Linked DNA regions of Homo sapiens: region 1 is reported to be linked to region 2. Evidence: microRNA targets listed by miRTarBase, many of them from high-throughput screens and not tested one by one. Region 2 holds a microRNA gene; the other region holds the end of a gene's coding sequence. Distances are between the middles of the regions.
What was found. Region 2 holds the annotated microRNA hsa-miR-3678-3p (CUGCAGAGUUUGUACGGACCGG, at 5,620-5,641, opposite strand). A microRNA usually pairs through its seed, bases 2 to 8, with sites in the 3' UTR of a target mRNA and lowers its output. Matches are read on the target gene's strand: a 7mer-m8 pairs with bases 2 to 8, a 7mer-A1 pairs with bases 2 to 7 and ends in A, and an 8mer does both.

Region 1: the mRNA of SLC43A2 is a reported target of hsa-miR-3678-3p. Seed matches in the 3' UTR shown: 7mer-A1 at 5,289-5,295.

What each region holds. Positions count from the first base shown.
Region 1 is chr17:1,567,819-1,576,174 of GRCh38, reverse strand. It overlaps SLC43A2 (solute carrier family 43 member 2), which reads left to right. Exons shown (of 14, transcript NM_152346.3): 14 at 410-6,907. The coding sequence ends at 571. Among named protein-coding and RNA genes, the nearest start is that of PITPNA, 9.2 kb to the right of the region's middle. RefSeq lists enhancers at 1-659, 3,915-4,750.
Region 2 is chr17:75,403,327-75,411,777 of GRCh38, reverse strand. It overlaps MIR3678 (microRNA 3678), which reads right to left and starts at 5,709; the gene lies at 5,616-5,709. GRB2 (growth factor receptor bound protein 2) reads left to right here and starts at 6,100. Exons shown (of 6, transcript NM_002086.5): 1 at 6,100-6,289. It also overlaps the pseudogene RNU6-938P. RefSeq lists a silencer at 5,863-6,042.

The sequences.
Region 1 (8,356 bases), 74 Mb from region 2:
GAGGCGGAGATTGCAGTGAGCTGAGATTGCGCCACTGCACTCCAGCCTGAATGACGACAGCGCGAGACTTCGTCTCAAAAAAAAAAAAAAAAAAAAAAAAAGAACACAGTTCCTGTCCCCGCCCCACCTCCGAGGGCCAGATTTCCTCACCAGGTACCAGGAACTTGTTCCAAGCCCAGAGGTTCAGATCAGCCCGTGTTTCCTGGGGGCCCAGGCCCTGAGGGTGGCCACATGGCCTGTGAAGAGTTGGGAACCGGGACGCTGGCATATGGGACCTCGTGGGCCTTCCTGTTTCGTTCCCCCTTCCACCCCGTGACCTTCTCCCCTTTCCCAAACCCGAGTGGAGGGCGGGTCTGCAGCCTCGGCGCACCACCACGCCCTGTGATGCGCGGCCTCCCTGCCTCCCCAGGTGAACGTGGGGCTGCTCCTTCTCAGCCTGCTGGGCTTCTGCCTCCCGCTCTACCTGATCTGCTACCGGCGCCAGCTGGAGCGGCAGCTGCAGCAGAGGCAGGAGGATGACAAACTCTTCCTCAAAATCAACGGCTCGTCCAACCAGGAGGCCTTCGTGTAGTGGCTGCCGCCTCGGAACTGCGGTCTCCTGCCTGTGCTTCAGTGACTGACCCCTGTCCTGCCCCTCCAGAGTACCCCACGCACCCCCAGGACCTTCGCCGTCTCCGTGCCAGCGTTCACGCTCCCTCCCGGGGCCCTGCCTCGGAGCTCTGTGGTGGAAGGACGGGAGAGGGCCCCGGACACGCGCGTTTTCTCCTGCCGAACGCAGGGGCTGCCCTGACTTTGCTCTGCCGCCCCCCGGGGACCCGGGGCCTGGGGTCTCTGTGGTGCCTGCAGCAGGAGCCAGGAACGCCCGGCAGGCAGGCGCTCTCCCGCCAGTGTCTGGATTCTGCCTCTTGCCAAAGCAGAGGGGGCTGCCATCCCCTGCCTGCCACCTGCCCCTCGGCTGCATGCCCACAGCCGTACCTGCCTGAGGACAAAGGCTTGCACTGTCTCGCCCGCGCCTGGCCCCCACCCCCTCCCCGGCCAGCCTGAGGCTGCCTGAGGAAGGAAGGACCCGCTTCCTGTTGTCGGTGCTAATTCCTTTGTAATTCCAGCCCCCTGTCGCCTGTCCAGGGCCTGCCCACCCGTTGGAGGCCGGTGGAGAAGCCCCACCTGGCTTATGCCCTGGAGAGGGTTTAGCGGGCTGGGTGGACCCCTCGCCTCCTCCCCGAGGGCCAATGCCGCGGACACGTTTTCACTGTCACCCTCGTTCTGTCTGCCACCTGAAGGGAATTTGAGGACCGCCGCCAGGGCACCCCGTACATACACACAGCTGCTTTTGTGGAGGTGGACGAAAGGCTGTGGCCGGCAGACGTGGAGGTCCAGGCCGGGGTGGGGACGTGGGTGGGTCCGAGGTGTGTGTGGGGTCGGGGTGGGCTCTAGGAGTTAGCCCTTATCCCCACTGACCAGGCGGGAGCCGCCAGGCCTGCAGCTGGGCCAGTGCCCAGGAGCCATCCTGGCGTGGGGCCAGGAGCTTGTCCAAGGCCACAGGCCCACAGCACCCCCTGCCGGCGGGCTCCGTGGGGCCCTGGAGCTGATGACGGGGGAGGCCCGTCCGCCTGGCCCACCAACCCGCCCACCTTGACTGCCCCCAGAAGTGTGTCTTGAGACCTCCTGGGCGTGCTTAGAGGGGTGAGTTGTGTTTGGATTTTTAGTTATTTTCTCTTCAGTTTTATTAGACTTCTTTTTTATAAAGCAATAAATCCATTTTCCTCCGGGTAAGGGATGCCCCTTCTGGCATATCAGTTAATAGCTGCATGTGCCTATTTTGAGCTTGAGAAGAAAAGGCAGGACAAGATTCTCTGCCACCGACCAGCTCCAGCCGTGCCCAGCTGCTCTTCGTCTCTCTGGGGGACTGCTGACTCGGGAGGGACAGTGGGCCAGGAAAAGACCTTCCTCCCCAACCCCCAAACAAACTGGGCTTGTGCAGACATCTTAGAAGTGTGAGCCACCCTCCTCTACCGATTTTCCCAGCCAAACAGGCGAATCCTGGTCCCTTTCCATCCCTACACCCTTCCACAACCCTGAAGATTCCCGCTGGGTTCTTCTGCAGGCTCAGAGCAGTTCAGGATGTGGGCGGCAGGGAGGGGGATGAAAGGAGAAGAGGAAAGGGCAGGTCCAGGCCACATTCAAGCTCCACATTAACAGCTTGGGCGCCTGGAACACATATCTCCTAGGCTTTATTTCACTCAAATATTTAAAAAAAGACTGGGCGTGGTGGCTCACGCCTATAATCCCAGCACTTTGGGAGGCCAAGGCAGGAGGCTCACCTGAGGTCAGGAGTTCGAGACCATCCTGACCAACATGGAGAAACCCCGTCTGTACTAAAAATAAACATTAATCGGGCGTGGTGGCGTGCGCCTGTAATCCCAACTACTCGGGAGCCTGAGGCAGGAGAATCGCTTGAACCGGGGAGACGGAGATTGCCGTGAGTCGAGATCGCACCATTGCACTCCAGCCTGGGCAACAGAGCGAGGCTCCGTCTCAAAAAGAAAAAAAAAAAGAGAACGAGATAAACATGCCCACTCCTGAGAACACTCGTTTTGTGATGTTAGTGGTTATTCTGATTTTCAAGAAAGTATTATAGTCAAGTTTGGGAAAGGCTGAGTTAAAAGTCAAGCCTGTTTCCTTACAGCCAGCACTGACAGCACTTTGCCAACGCTCATGAGCTCCGTGGCTCCTCAGGAGCGGGTGTGCTGTGCTGCCGAGGAACGGCTCGAACCATCAGAGCCACCAGCCTCCACGTGCGGCTCCATGATCACCCCCAGCAGAGGCTCCCGGGTGCTGGTTCCAAATGGAGACTCCAGGTCTTGCCGCTGACCGGTGACTCTGCTGCCAGCATTTGAGACCCGCCATCACACAGGAGTTGCAGATTCGGAGAAACCCTAACTAGCCAGGGTGCTGCCAGCTGGGAAAAGGCCGCCTTTTTTTTTTTTTTTTTTTTTTTGAGTTGGGGTCTTGCTCTGCCATCCAGGCTGGAGTGCAGTGGTGCAACTGATAGCTCACCACGGCCTCCAACTCATGGGCTCAAGGGATCCTCCCACCTCGGCCTCCTAAGTATCTGGGACTATAAGTGTGTGCCACCATGCCTGGCTAATTTTTTTTTTCTTTTTCATAAAGATGAATTCTTGCTATTTTGCCCAGGCTGGTCTGGAACTCCTGGGCTGAAGCAATTCTCCCACCTCAGCCTCCCAAAGTGCTGAGATTACAGGCGTGAGTCACAATGCCTAGCCAAAAAGCCAGTCTTGAGATGGGGAAGACGTGGCCCGTGCTGTCCCCAGCAGTGCCCAGTCCCAGCCAAAGTGGGCAGTGCTGCCTCACTCTCCCACCCACCCTCAGGGTGTGGCACTTACTGGGAAGAAGCAGGCATTGAGAAACAGAATTGAGGGGGGGAAACAGTCCAGGGCCAACAGTGCTTGGGGATTGAGGCCTGAAAATGCGAGCAGGGTACAGAGGCTGTGGCTGGCCAGATGGGTCGGGTGCCCCCTGCACTCCCACCCCCTAGTCAGGGGTCACCCATCCTACTTTGCCTTGTGTGGAGCTGACAGGTGACATGTTTTCCTATTGTTGTCCTTGACTTGATAACAATCTGGGAGTTAAACACATATGATCATCCCTGCTTTACAACTGAAAAACGAGGCCTAGAGATACTATCATCATATACACCTGAAAAACGAGGCCTGGAGCGATGGAGGAGCTTGTTCAAGGTCAGAGCCAGCACTCATATATGGGTCTTAAGACACTGGAGCAGCCAAGGGCCTCTAGACCAGGACATTCCACTCGGAGCAGCAGCTCAGGGGCCACCAGGCCTCTGTGGCAGGGGGACCTCTGTGGCAGGGGGGACCTCTGTGGCGGGGGGGGGGCCTCTGTGGCAGGGGGGTCACAGCCCAAGGAAGGGGAGCAGGCCCAGGCATGGTTTCCGTTTCTGGGAGCCAAGAGCCTTCTCAGAAGAGGGGGAGAGAGCTACTGCATGGAATCATTTGGGCCCTGGAGGCTGATGGGTACTTGGGGGAGCAATCCCTGGTGACCCCAACCAGCAAGACAAGTGCCCTGTGAAGGGGAAGGGACTACAGCTGATCAAAGGAGCAGGCACCAGTGGCCGGGCCTCCCGTCTGCCCCTCATCCTCCAGGCTCTGGCGGGAAGGAGCAGGAAGGGCTCCCTGCCCTTGGGGTTTTGATCAGTGAGGAGGGGGGCTTGGGTCTGAGTCTGGGTCTGGGTCTGCTGCCGAAACACTGCCCCCAGTCCCTCTCCTCACTAGACTCTGGGGTCTAGGCGTGTCTTTGTGGTCGGCCTTCTCCAAACCCTCTAGGCCTCTGTCTGCAGCTGCTGCTGCCTGGACCTATACACAAGGTCCCACCCCTCACCGGGGCCAAAGACGTGGTTGCAGGCCCTGGTGGATCCTTTCTGTTTTGCTCCATCCCCGTCCCCTCTTGCACCCAGCATCGTCCTGGTCAGAACTTCCGTTTAAACCTTCCTTGCCTGCCGTGCACTCCGAGGGGGGCGTCACTTTGCCATAGGCCCCAGGGCTGAAAATGGCGGGACATCCAGTATTGGGCTCACGTGCATAAGACTGTCCCAGACAGCAGCACAATCACGTTCAGCCAAGTGGAGTTTCCGACGCACTTGTGTGGCAGCCGCGTGAATGTGAGCCGATATGCAGCTGGGAGGGGTTGTGGGCCTCCTGCGGTGAGGGGCTCCTGCCAGGAGCTCTGAGAAGCCTCCACAGAATCAGCCGTCGGGCTCCTTCAGCAGCAGCTCCCCTTATCTGTGCCAACGACTGGGGGCCTAACTCAAGGGTGCCAGCCCGTCTTCCGCCAATACAGACTGTGGGATTCTGAGAGTTAGGAGCCTGGGGTCCCCTGGGGTGGGGTGGTCAGGGTGAGCAGGTGGGCTCTGTGAGCCTGTTTCCCCATGCCCTGACTCACCCCAATCCCTGGGTGAGGACAGAGCTCCTGAAGGCCACTGAAGGAGGTGCAGCACACTCCACCTGGGTGGCCTTCCGCAGCTCAGCCCTCTTCCTGCCAGCAGGAAGCCTCTGCCTGTGCTCCTTAAGTTAGCCATCCTCACCCCCTCCGGGCAGCTCTGAGACTGAGCCAGGGCCACTAGCAGCACCCAGACCTCGACCCTTCTCAGACCGAGGCGCCACCACCCCAGGCCGAGGAGGCAAGGAGGGAAGACCAAAGTCTAGAGGACTGTCTTGGTGGCCCTGGGCGAGTCTTGAACTTTGGTGCCATCATCTGCAAAAGGGAGGAAAGAATGCCTGCGTGGTGCAGCTACGTGGATACGCAGTGAAGACCCGCATGGTGGGACGCCTGGCACTTAACAATGGTAGCATTTGGCCGGGCGCGGTGGCTCACGCCTGTAATCCCAGCACTTTGGGAGGCCGAGGCGGGCGGATCACGAGGTCAGGAGATCAAGACCATCCCGGCTAAAACGGTGAAACCCCGTCTCTACTAAAAATACAAAAAATTAGCCGGGCGTAGTGGCGGGCGCCTGTAGTCCCAGCTACTTGGGAGGCTGAGGCAGGAGAATGGTGTGAACCCGGGAGGCGGAGCTTGCAGTGAGCCGAGATCCCGCCACTGCACTCCAGCCTGGGCGACAGAGCGAGACTCCGTCTCAAAAAAAAAAAAAAAAACAATGGTAGCATCGTTTTCAGTGCCCAGGAAGAAGGCAGCTGGGACAGGGAAAGGGCCACCACACCACACCCAAGCCCATACAACAGGAGAGCCACTTTCAGCAGCTCTGAGCAGGACAGACTTGTGGCCAAGTCAAGAAAGTAAGGTCTGGTCCCAGCGAGGTGGCTCATCCCTGTAATCCCAGTGCTTTGGGAGGCCGAAGCGGGGGCGGGGTGGATCACTTGAGGTCAGGGGTTTGAGACCAGCCTGACCAACATGGTGAAACCTCAACTCTACTAAAAATACAAAAATTAGGGCCGGGCGCAGTGGCTCACGCCTGTAATCCCAGCACTTTGGGAGGCTGAGGCGGGCGGATCACAAGGTCAGGAGATCGAGACCAACGTGGCTAACACAGTGAAACCCCATCTCTACTAAAAATACGAAAAAAAAAAATTAGCTGGGCGTGGTGGTGGGTACCTGTAGTCCCAGCTACTTGGGAGGCTGAGGCAGGAGAATGGCATGAACCCGGGAGGTGAAGCTTGCAGTGAGCCGAGATTGTGCCACTGCACTCCAGCCTGGGCGACAGAGCAAGACTCCGTCTCAAAAAAAAAAAAAAAAAAAAAAAAAGTAAGGTCTGTATCTGCTGACCCCACCCTTCTCCGAAGCCCTCTCCGAGCAAAGCCTTAAGAAACTCTTCTCTCGTTCACTTTTCTTTTGTGGCTTTCACGTTTTGGTAAGACTTGGCCAAATAGCTGCTCGAGATAATCAATCACTGGTGGACAAGTTTCTGCTGAGTGAGGTTTCTGCTGAGTGGGGCGACTCAAGGCACGGTCACGTAGGCAGCACCTGTACACCGCATCCTCATACAGCTGCGGGACCGTGCCTCTGACTGTGTGCGTGTGTGTTTATCTAAGTGTGAGATGCATCCGGGCATGTCAGGGTGTGTACATGTTGGGAAGACTGTGTAGATTTCTTGTGTGCCGCTCTCTGAATGGAGGAGAGGGGAAGCGTCTTACCTCGCTGAATCCCTTTCCATTGCTGGAAAGAACACCTGGGCAGGAGCGGCCCCAAGACCCCGCCCAGGCCCTCGGAAGGGAGCCTGAAGGGTTAATCCGTACCCTGTATTAACCAGGGTCAACCCAGCGGCTGACCCGCCTCTTCCCTGCTCCTTTGCCGTTTCTAGCACCTGGCTTACTTCCTGGCACACAGTGAGCACTCAATAAATGTATGCTGAGAATGACTGCGAGCGGCTTCCTCCTTGGCTCCTGTGTCTCTTTCTCCCTAGATCACACATTTCTCGCCTCTTGTCTGGTGCCCAGGTTCCCTGTCCCTTGACTGGGATGCGTTCCTGACCCCCACCCCTGCCAGGCTGCATTTGCTGGTTGATCTGCATTGCCATTTGAAGGAGTGTGGGAGGGCAGAGCAACAGGCCTTTTGGGTGGGAAGACCAAGGCTGCTGGTGAATTCTGCTTATAAAGGAAGCCCCCTCGGATCACCTGAAGTCAGGAGTTCGAGACTAGCCTGACCAACATGGTGAAACCCTGTCTCTTCTAAAAATACAAAAAGTAGCCAGGCGTGGTGGCGAGCATTTCCAGCACTTTGGGAGGCCGAGGCGGGCAGATCACGAGGTCAGGAGATCGAGACCATCCTGGCTAACATGGTGAAACCCTGTCTCTACTAAAACTACAAAAAATGTCCAGGTGCGGTGGCTCACGCCTGTAATCCCAGCACTTTGGAAGGCCGAGGCGGGCAGATCACGAGCTCAGGAGATCAAGACAATCCTGGCTAACACGGTGAAACCCCGTCTCTACTAAAAATACAAAAAAGTAGCCGGGCGTGGTGACGGGTGCCTGTACTCCCAGCTACTCGGGAGGCTGAGGCAGGAGAATGGCGTGAACCCGGGAGGCGGAGCTTGCAGTGAGCGGAGATTATACCACTGCGCTCCAGCCTGGGCAACAGAGCGAGACTCCGTCTCAAAAAAAAAAAAAGAAAAGAAAGAAAAAAACATTCTTTGAAGGCTGGCGCATGCTCTGCCTTGGTCCCCACTCTACCCCCAGTGCCTAGAATCGTGCCTGGCATGGAATAGCTGCTCAATAAATATTTGGGGGACGAAGTTTAAAAAGAGAGAGAGACAGAAATACCACAGAAAAGAAGCTAAAATAGACTAAGAGGCTGGGAGAAGAGCAGAGCGGAAGATGGAAACAGTGAAATACAGTCTCCCCAGGACACCCAGAGATGGGTTACAGGGCTGGCTATAACCGACGCAGTACCAAGGGTCAACCACCCAGGGGAAACCATGCTGAGAACTGGAACCGTGAGATCCACAGACACAATGATGAAAGAGTGGCCGGGTGCCGTGGCTCATGCCTGTAATCCTGGCACTTTGGGAGGCTGAGGCAGGTGGATCGCTGGAGCCTAGGAGTTGGAGACCAGCCTGGCCAACATGGTGAAACCCCATCTTTACTAAAAGGGCAAAAAATTATCCGGGCGTGGTGGCGGGCACCTGTAATCCCAGTTACTCGGGAGGCTGAGGCAAGAGAATTGCTTGAACCTGGAAGGCAGAGTTTGCAGTGGGCTGAGATGGCACCATTGCACTCCAGCCCGGGCAACAAGAGTGAAACTCCATCTCAAAAAAAAAAAAAGAAAAAACAAAACAAAACAAAAAGACGAAGGAGTGAGAGAGAGAAAT
Region 2 (8,451 bases):
TTTGCATTTTTAGTAGAGGTGGGGTTTTACCATGTTGCCCAGGTTGGTCTTGAACTCCTGGACTCAACTGATCCACCCACCTCCACCTCCTAAAGTGAGATGTGAGCCACTGTGCCTGACCTACCATGGAAATTTTGAAGAAGAAAACTGACTTGGGGACCTAGTGGAAGGGTAGAAAGCCAACTGAACAGAGGAAATTGCATGTGTAAAGATATGGACACTCAAAGGATCATGACACCTTCCGGAAACCACAAGTGGGTTAGTATTGGTGGAGTATGTGTTACTGGAGACTGAGAAGGTGGCACTGGCTGGAAGGGCCAGATCTTTAAGAGCCTTGTAAGGGACTTGAGACAGTAGATGATGAATGTCTTAGTTCCAATTGGTTTTCTACTCTGCAGCCAGAGTGACAAAATATTTGGAAGATAAAAATTTGACCATGGCCCACTCCTACTTCAGTATTCCACAGAGTCAAGTCTCAAGTCTTTAGCAATAATGAAAAAGTGGGTGCAGTGGCTCATGCCTGTAACCCCAGCACTTTAGGATGCTGAGGTGGGAGGATCAAGAGTTCAAGACCAGGCTAGCAACAAAGTCAGACTCCTCTTCTCTACAAAAAATAAAAAAATTAGTCTGGGTGCAGTGGCCTATGCCTGTAATCCCAGCACTTTGGGAGGCCGAGGTGTGTGGATCATCTGAGGTCAGGAGTTCGAGAGCAGCCTGGCCAACATGGTGATACCCCCATCTCTACTAAAAATACGAAAATTACCCAGGCGTGGTGGTGCGTGCCTGTAGTCCCAGCTATTGGGGAGGCTGAGGCAGGAGAATTGCTTCAACCTGGGAGGCAGAGGTTGCAGTGAGCCAAGATGGTGCCACTTCACTCCAGCCTGGGTGACAGAGCAAGACTCTGTCTCAAAAAAAAAAAAAAAAAAATTAGTCAGGCATGGTGATGGCGCATGCCTATGATCCCAGCTATGTGGCAGGAGGATTGTTTGAGTTCAGGAGGTTGAGGCTGCAGTGAGTTGTGATCACACCACTGTACTTCAGCCTGGGCAATACAGCAAGACCCTATCTCAAAAAAAGAGAGAGAGAGAGAGAGAGAAAAGCAAAGGCCCTTCACGAGCCTCTTCAGCTGCTTTACCCACATGCCACACATCCTTCCTTGTCCCAGCTATTGGCTTCCTTACATCCTTGCTTACTGTCTGGCCTTCACACTTGCTGTATCATTTCTTCCTCTCAGGCTAACCAGGGTCTCAGCTTAAAGCCCACTTCCTCTGCCTTCCCTCATAGTGGATGAGGTCAGGTCCCCTGCTGTATGCTTCCAAAGCCACCAGCACTATCCTGGTCAAATTCTCAGAGACATGTCTTCCCCTTCAGGCTGCAGACTCTGTGGAGGGTTGTCCTCCTCTCTAGAGAGTAGATGCTCTAGGCTGGGCGTGGTGGCTCACGCTTGTAATCTTAGCACTTTGGGAGGCCAAGGCGGGCAGATTGCCTGAGCCCAGGAGTTTGAGACCAACCTAACCAACATGATGATACCCATCTCTACTAAAAACACAAAAATTTAGCCAAGCGTGGTGGTGCATGACTGTTGTCCCAGGTACTGGGGGGCTGAGGCAGGAGGATCTCTTGCCCAGGAGGTTGAGGCTGCAGTGAGCCCTGATCGTGCCACTGCACTCCAGCCTGGGCAACAGAGTGAGACCCTGTCTCAATACATACATACATACATACATACGTACATACATACATACTTACATAACACAAAAAATTAGCTGGGCATGGCGGCATGTGCCTGTAGTTCTGGCTACTTGGGAGACTCAGATGGGAGAATTACCTGAGCCTGGGAAGTCAAGGCTGCAGTGAGCTGAGGTTGCGCCACTGCACTCCAGCCTGGGTGACAAGAGTGAGACCCTGTCTCAAAAACAAAAAAAAACAAACAAAGAGAATAGATGCTTAGTTAATGTTGGCAAAGAGAATGAATGAGTACATTAAGCTTTTCTTTTATTTATTTATTTATTTTTTTTTTTGAGATGGAGTCTGGTTCTGTCACCCAGGTTGGAGTGCAGTGGCATGATCTTTGCTTACTGCAACCTCCGCCTCCTGGGTTCAAGCAATTCTCCTGCCTCAGCCTCCCGAGTAGCTGGGGTTACAAGCATGTGCCACCACGCCCGGCTAATTTTTGCATTTTTAGTAGAGATGAGGTTTCACCATGTTGGCTAGGCTGGTCTCAAACTCCTGACTTCAAGTGATCCACCTGCCTCAGCCTCCCAAAGTGCTGGGATTATGGGAGAGAACGCTGCGTCCAGCTTGTCAAGCTTTTCAACAGCATACTGAATATTTCCACCTGCATGTCTCCTGGAATGCTGAATTCTGCATTTCCAAAAATGAGTCATCATCATGTTGGGGCTCAGAGAATGATACCCCAAAGTATGCTCCTCTGGCATTCTGAGCACTTTTGAATGAAAGGAAATTGGAAGGACTTACAAGCTGCCTCAGAACCAAGGACTTTTTAAAGTCTTGTTTCACCACCCCACATGCATGCAGGGGCTGTCTGAAAGTTCCCTTAGCTGACTGAGAAACCAAAAGAAATTCAATTGTGTACTTGCTTTGGCAGCACATATACTAAAATTGGAATGATACAGAGATTAGCATAGCCCCTGAGCAAGAAGACATGCAAATCTGTGAAGGGATCCATTAAAAAAGAAAGAAAGAAAAAGAGCAGGTGTGGTGGCTCACGCCTGTGATCCCAGCACTTTGGGAGGCCAAGGCGGGCGGATCACCTGAGGTCGGGAGTTCGAGACCAGCCTGACCAACAGGGAAAAGCCCCATCTCTGCTAAACATACAAAATTAGCCGGGCGTGGTGGTGCATGCCTGTAATGCCAGCTACTCTGGAGGCTGAGGCAGGAGCATCACTTGAACCTGGGAGGTGGAGGTTTCGGTGAGCTGAGATCACGCCATTGCACTCCAGCCTGGACAACAAGAGTGAAACTACATCTCAAAAAAAAAAAAAAGAAAAGAAAAGAAAAAAAATAGATGCGACTGTCTTAAAATTTCCTCCCTAGGACTCTCGTCAAATAACCAGGAAATATTAACTACCAGAGAAGAGAAAAGACTAAAAGTTGTCACCACATCCAAACAGACTTTTCATCTATTCTCCTGAGGACAGCTGAGATTATTTAGGAGACTTTATCTGCATAATAAGACAACCTTTATTTACAGTGAAGTCCTGCACCTCACCTTCCTGAAATTTGTCACAACCTCCAGCTCCCAGAGCTCAGAGGAACTTTGTCCCAGGCATTGTTTGGGCTCATTCCTTTTCCCTAAAAATAGTTGACTACCTTTCAGTATTGCTGACCTCCGCTCATCTCCCTCTCCTCTGCAAAGATGGTGCTCTTTAAGCTTCAGCCACCTGGCTCTTCTCTGAGTCTCATATTCTGTATGGTAACCATGCACACTGCATGTCAGTAAATTTGTATGTGCTTTCTCCTGTTAATCTATTGCCAGTTTATTTCAGCAGACTCAAACTGTCAGAGTGGAAGGGAAAAATTCCCTTCACCCTTACAATCATCTCCTCACCTGCCCTTCCCTGTTCTCTGTGCCTGCCCCCTCCAGTCAGCTATGCCTCTTGACTGGCAAATTTCTGTGTTCTCCCTGTTATCCAGGCCCACTCAAAACAAAAAACTGCAATTCTTCCCTCATGTCTTCCTCTCTGCTTAGCAGCTAAGTCCCTCCCTTCCATTTCTATTTTTTTCTGACTGCTATTTTAGAACAAAGTGGCATAGTGCGGGAAAAAAATGAGGATTTTAGAACAAGACAGGCCTTAGTCCAAATCTTAGGTCTACTATATTTTGGCTTCCTTGGGTAAATTACTAACCTCTCTAAGGCTTAGTTTCCAAGTCTGTAAAATGGGGATATTACCCACCCTGTGGAGGCGCTATGACTTAAGTATGCATCAAGTGGTAAATAGAGGGTCCTTTTCTTATTTTCACCTCATATCAGACACCTCCTGCTCAGAAACCTTCAGAGGTTGCCCATCACTTGACTATGACACCTAAGCCATGCATTTTGCATTTTGGCCCCTCTCTCTCATCACTCTTCCCCCCAATTACTGGGGCTTGGACTAATCAAAAACATTGGTTGATGGCCAGGAGTGTTGGCTCACATCTGTAATCCCAGCACTTTGAGAGGCTGAGGCAGGTGGATCACCTGAGGTCAGGAGTTCGAGACCAGCCTGGCCAACATGGCGAAACCCTGTCTCTATTAAAAATACAAAAATTAGCTGGGTGTGGTGGCAGGCTGCTGTAATCTCAGCTACTTGAGAGGCTGAGGTGAGAGAATGCTTGAACCCAGGAGGCGGAAGTTGCAGTGAGCCAAAATCATGCCACTGCACTCCACTCCAGCCTGGGCAACAGTGCAAGTCTCAAAAAAAAAAAAAAAACCAAAAAAACAGGCATGGTGGCTCACGCCTGTAATCCCAGCACTTTGGGAGGCCAAGGTGGGCGGATCACCTGAGGTCAGGAGTTTGAGACCAGCCTGACCAACATGGAGAAACCCCATCTCTACTAGAAATACAAAATTAGCTGGGTGTGGTGGCACATGCCTGTAATCCCAGCTACTCGGGAGGCTGAGGCAGGAGAATCCCTTGAACCCGGGAGGCGGAGCTTGCGGTGAGCCAAGATCGCGCACCATTGCACTCCAGCCTGGGCAACAAGAGCAAAACTCCGTCTCAAAAAAAAAAAAAAAAAAAAAAAACAAAAGGCTGATTCCATTACTCTTTCCTCTTTCCTCCCTGCTTTCACTTTGCCGTTCAAACCAAATCCTTCTTGATTAGCTCAGCACCAAGTACTGGCTCCCTCCTCAGCCATCCCTATGTGTAGTTCAGTGGCACTTGGGGCCAACTGCTTGTCTTACAGATTAGGCAACTCTAGATTACAAAGCACTGAAAGCAGGGGCTTCATCTGGTTGGTCTTTGACCCTGCAGAGCCCCTTGCACACAGGTGATGCTCAATAAATACTTGGTGAAAGCACAATTCATTTTCTGTGTTTCAATGGGCTTCTTTTCTCTATAGAATCAGATGCTTGGTTATTCTCACCTCAGCGCTATTTTGTTGGCTTCCAGAAGGCACAGTAACGCTAGGTGTGTTGTGTTCTATCCTTTAATTGGAAGAGCTTTGGGAACTGAAAAATAAGAATTATTTCTCCAAGCCTCATCTTCTGCCACTCCCCCGTACTCACCGGCCTCATACAGGAATTGAACTACTTAGCACTGCACAGAACACGACTTTCTCTCTCACGCCTCCGTTCCTCTGTACTTAGCCTCTGTACTTACGTGCCATTCCCTTTCCCTGAAATGCCCTTACTCTGGCTTCTCTGCCTGGCAAATTCCTACTCATCCTCCAAGACTCAGATCAGACATCGCCGCATCACATCTGTGAAGGCTCTTCTGCAATGGGCAGTGTAGCAGTACCCCCTCCATTTTTTTAGCTTCCTCAGCAAACTCCAAATAATTATAACAGTACTTATGGCATTATTTGTTTATTTTTCTTCTACTTCCTAGACCGTGAATTCCTTAAGGGCCAAGATTTCTGTTCTATCCCCAGCACAGTGTTCGGCCTATATTGGAGAATCCGGTCCGTACAAACTCTGCAGTGATTCAATCAATGAGCAAACAAACTCACCAATCATTCAACACAGCAGAGTTTGTACGGACCGGATTCTCAAATATTTTAAGACCTGGTCCTCTATTTGGAGTGCTTCATTCTGGAAGATCTCTTCCTCCCCCAAGCCCCTACCCATCCAACTGCCTAGGTTTGGTAGAAGAGGAAAATAAAGTGATTAGACGGGGGAAGAGTCCTTCAGGGCTAAGCTGTCATTTACCCGCTCTGGCACCGAGAGGGTTACGGCGACCCGGGGGCGGAGCCGTGCGGAGGCCACCTGCTGCGGGGAGGTCTGGCGCATGCGCCCTGACACCTAGCTGGTTCCCTACCCGCAGGGGCCCGGCTGAGGAGGAGCGCTTGCGCTCTGGGCCTTTTCCGCCGGGGGAAGTCTCGCGGGGGCGGGGCGGGGCCTCGTGGAGAAGTTCTCGCGGGACACCGACGGGGAGCGGAAGCCAGGAGGTATTGCTGCTTCGGCGACCGGGCGGCGGCAGCGGCGGCGGCGGCTGTGGCAGAGTCTGTGCCTGTGGCGGTGACGGCGGCGGGAGCAAGCGCTGCCCTCGCAGAGCAGCCTTGGGGTCGCCGGCCGCTCGCAGCGTTGTGGAGGGGCGGGCCGGACGCTGAGCGGAGCAGCTGCGCCACGGTGAGTACGGGAGGCTGCGCTCGGCGCCTCTCTCGTGCCTTTTCCTCTTGGCTCTACAGCGGGAGTGGGCCCCGGGGGAACCGGGACCGGCCCCGGGGTTCGCGTCGGGGCGGCGAGGCTTGGGACGTGGAGCGCAATCCCCGGGGCTCCGGACTCTACGTTTCCCCTTTTGGGGCGCTTCCTTCCTGGGGACCGTCCTCCTCCGGCTCTTGGCTCTGGGCAGTCCGGGGGAAGAGGTCGGGGTTCTCTGGCGAGGTCCCCTGCCTTCATCGGGAGGGTTTGCACGGAAGGGGCCCGGGAAGCCCAGGCGGGCCGAACGCCGACCGAGTCAGTCTACCCGAGCCTGGCGGCGGGGGACTGGTGTGGGCTGCAGCTGTGGTGATTGATGTGCCTTCGACCTGCACGGCAACCACGTCACCATCTCCTGGCGTCTTTGGGCTTAATTTTGTGCGGGAATCCACTTTGGGGTGGAACGTTTGCTGCTGGAGCCGGGGGAGATACCTTTATTCTGACACTTAAAAAAAAAAACTATTTGAAAAATATTTGTCAAGAAAAATTCAGCAGTAGCAGGTTGGACTGCACCGAGGAAGGATTGCGGCGAGAGCGGGCGCTGGTAATTTTCATTTGCAGCGCGCCCTCTCTATGATTGTAAGCCACACATGAGTTATGGCTTGTTTAGAAAGTTTTTCAAGGCTGGCTTCAAACGCTGTGAAAGTGCAGTTTGCAGGGGACTGAAGTGCACTTGAGGTCTGTCTCTTTTTGATGCTGTTGACTTTCCGAAATGTCAGACACATGAGAGAAATTAGCATTAGTCTATTTTGGCTTTCTTACTCCTCTTTCTCCAGTTATTTCCTTCCTTCTCTATCTGCTTCTGTCCTTTCCACTAGGGACACGAAATGCTTGTGTAATGCAAGTCATTTGCCCCTTCCTCCCCCCACCCCCCCCTTTTTTTCTAATGTACTTCCCCTTCCTCCTTGTAGTCCCCACTCTGGCGTAATTTTTCGAGGTTTCTTCCCTTTCGTGCTGTTCGTTTTCTCTCATTTCAAGATTCCGTCTTTTTCCTCGGGAAGAGACTCTCTTTCCTTGCTTTCGTTCCTTTACTTTTGCGCGTCCCCTGCGTTCCCTGCAGTCAGCCAGAAGGGTTGCTAGAGAGCCGTGGGAGGCTGAAGTCCCCTCTCTGAGAACGGGGAGGCTCAAAAGATTGAATTCATCCCTAAGAAATCAGTCCTGCCACTAGGTCGCAAGTGTGGTTTGCTTGTATTATTTTTGTCTTTTACTCTTTTTCTTTTAAGATTATGCTTCTGTGCCTGCTTATGTTTTCTTCTAGTATGTCTTTATAATAGGAAGATTGGGTCAGCTCAGTGACTTTTTTTTTTTAGGCAGAGTTTTGCTCTTTTTGCCCAGGCTGGAGTGCAATGGTGCTATATGGGCTCACTGCAACTCTGCCTCCTGGGTTCAAGCGATTCTCCTGCCTCAGCCTCCCGAGTAGCTGGGATCACAGGCGCCCACCACCATGTCCAGCGAATTTTGTATTTTTAGTAGAGATGGGGTTTCACTGTGTTGCCCAGGTTGGTCTTGAACTCTTGACCTCAGGTAATCCACCCGCCTTGGCCTCCCAAAGTGTTGGGATTACAGGCGTGAGCCACCGCGCCCGGCCAGAGTTAATTCTTATAATCAGCTTTCTTCTACTAAACACAAGCATTTATTTATTTATTTTATTTTTTTGAGACGGAGTCTCGCTCTGTCGCCCAGGCTGGAGTGCAGTGGTGCGATCTCGGCTCACTGCAGCTTCCACCTCCTGGGTTTAAGCGATTCTCCTGCCTCGCACTCCCGAGTAGCTGGGATTACAGGTGCTCACCACCACACCTGGCTAATTTTTGTATTTTTGTAAAGACAGAGTTTCACCATGTTGGCCAGGCTGGTCTCGAATTCCTGACCTCAAGTGATCTGCCCATCTCAGCCTTGGGATTACAGACATGAGCCACTGCGCCCGGCCTGAACTCAAACGTTTAAATGTTTGAGGCACTTTACTTCGTCAGCAAGTTATTCAGATTTGAGAGGCTTGCTGGGTTTTAAATACTACTGGTTGATGGTACTTAGAGATTCTTCTCAGTAATTGCTGTTATCATGTTGCATGTTGTCCATCAGAGTTCTAATTGTTA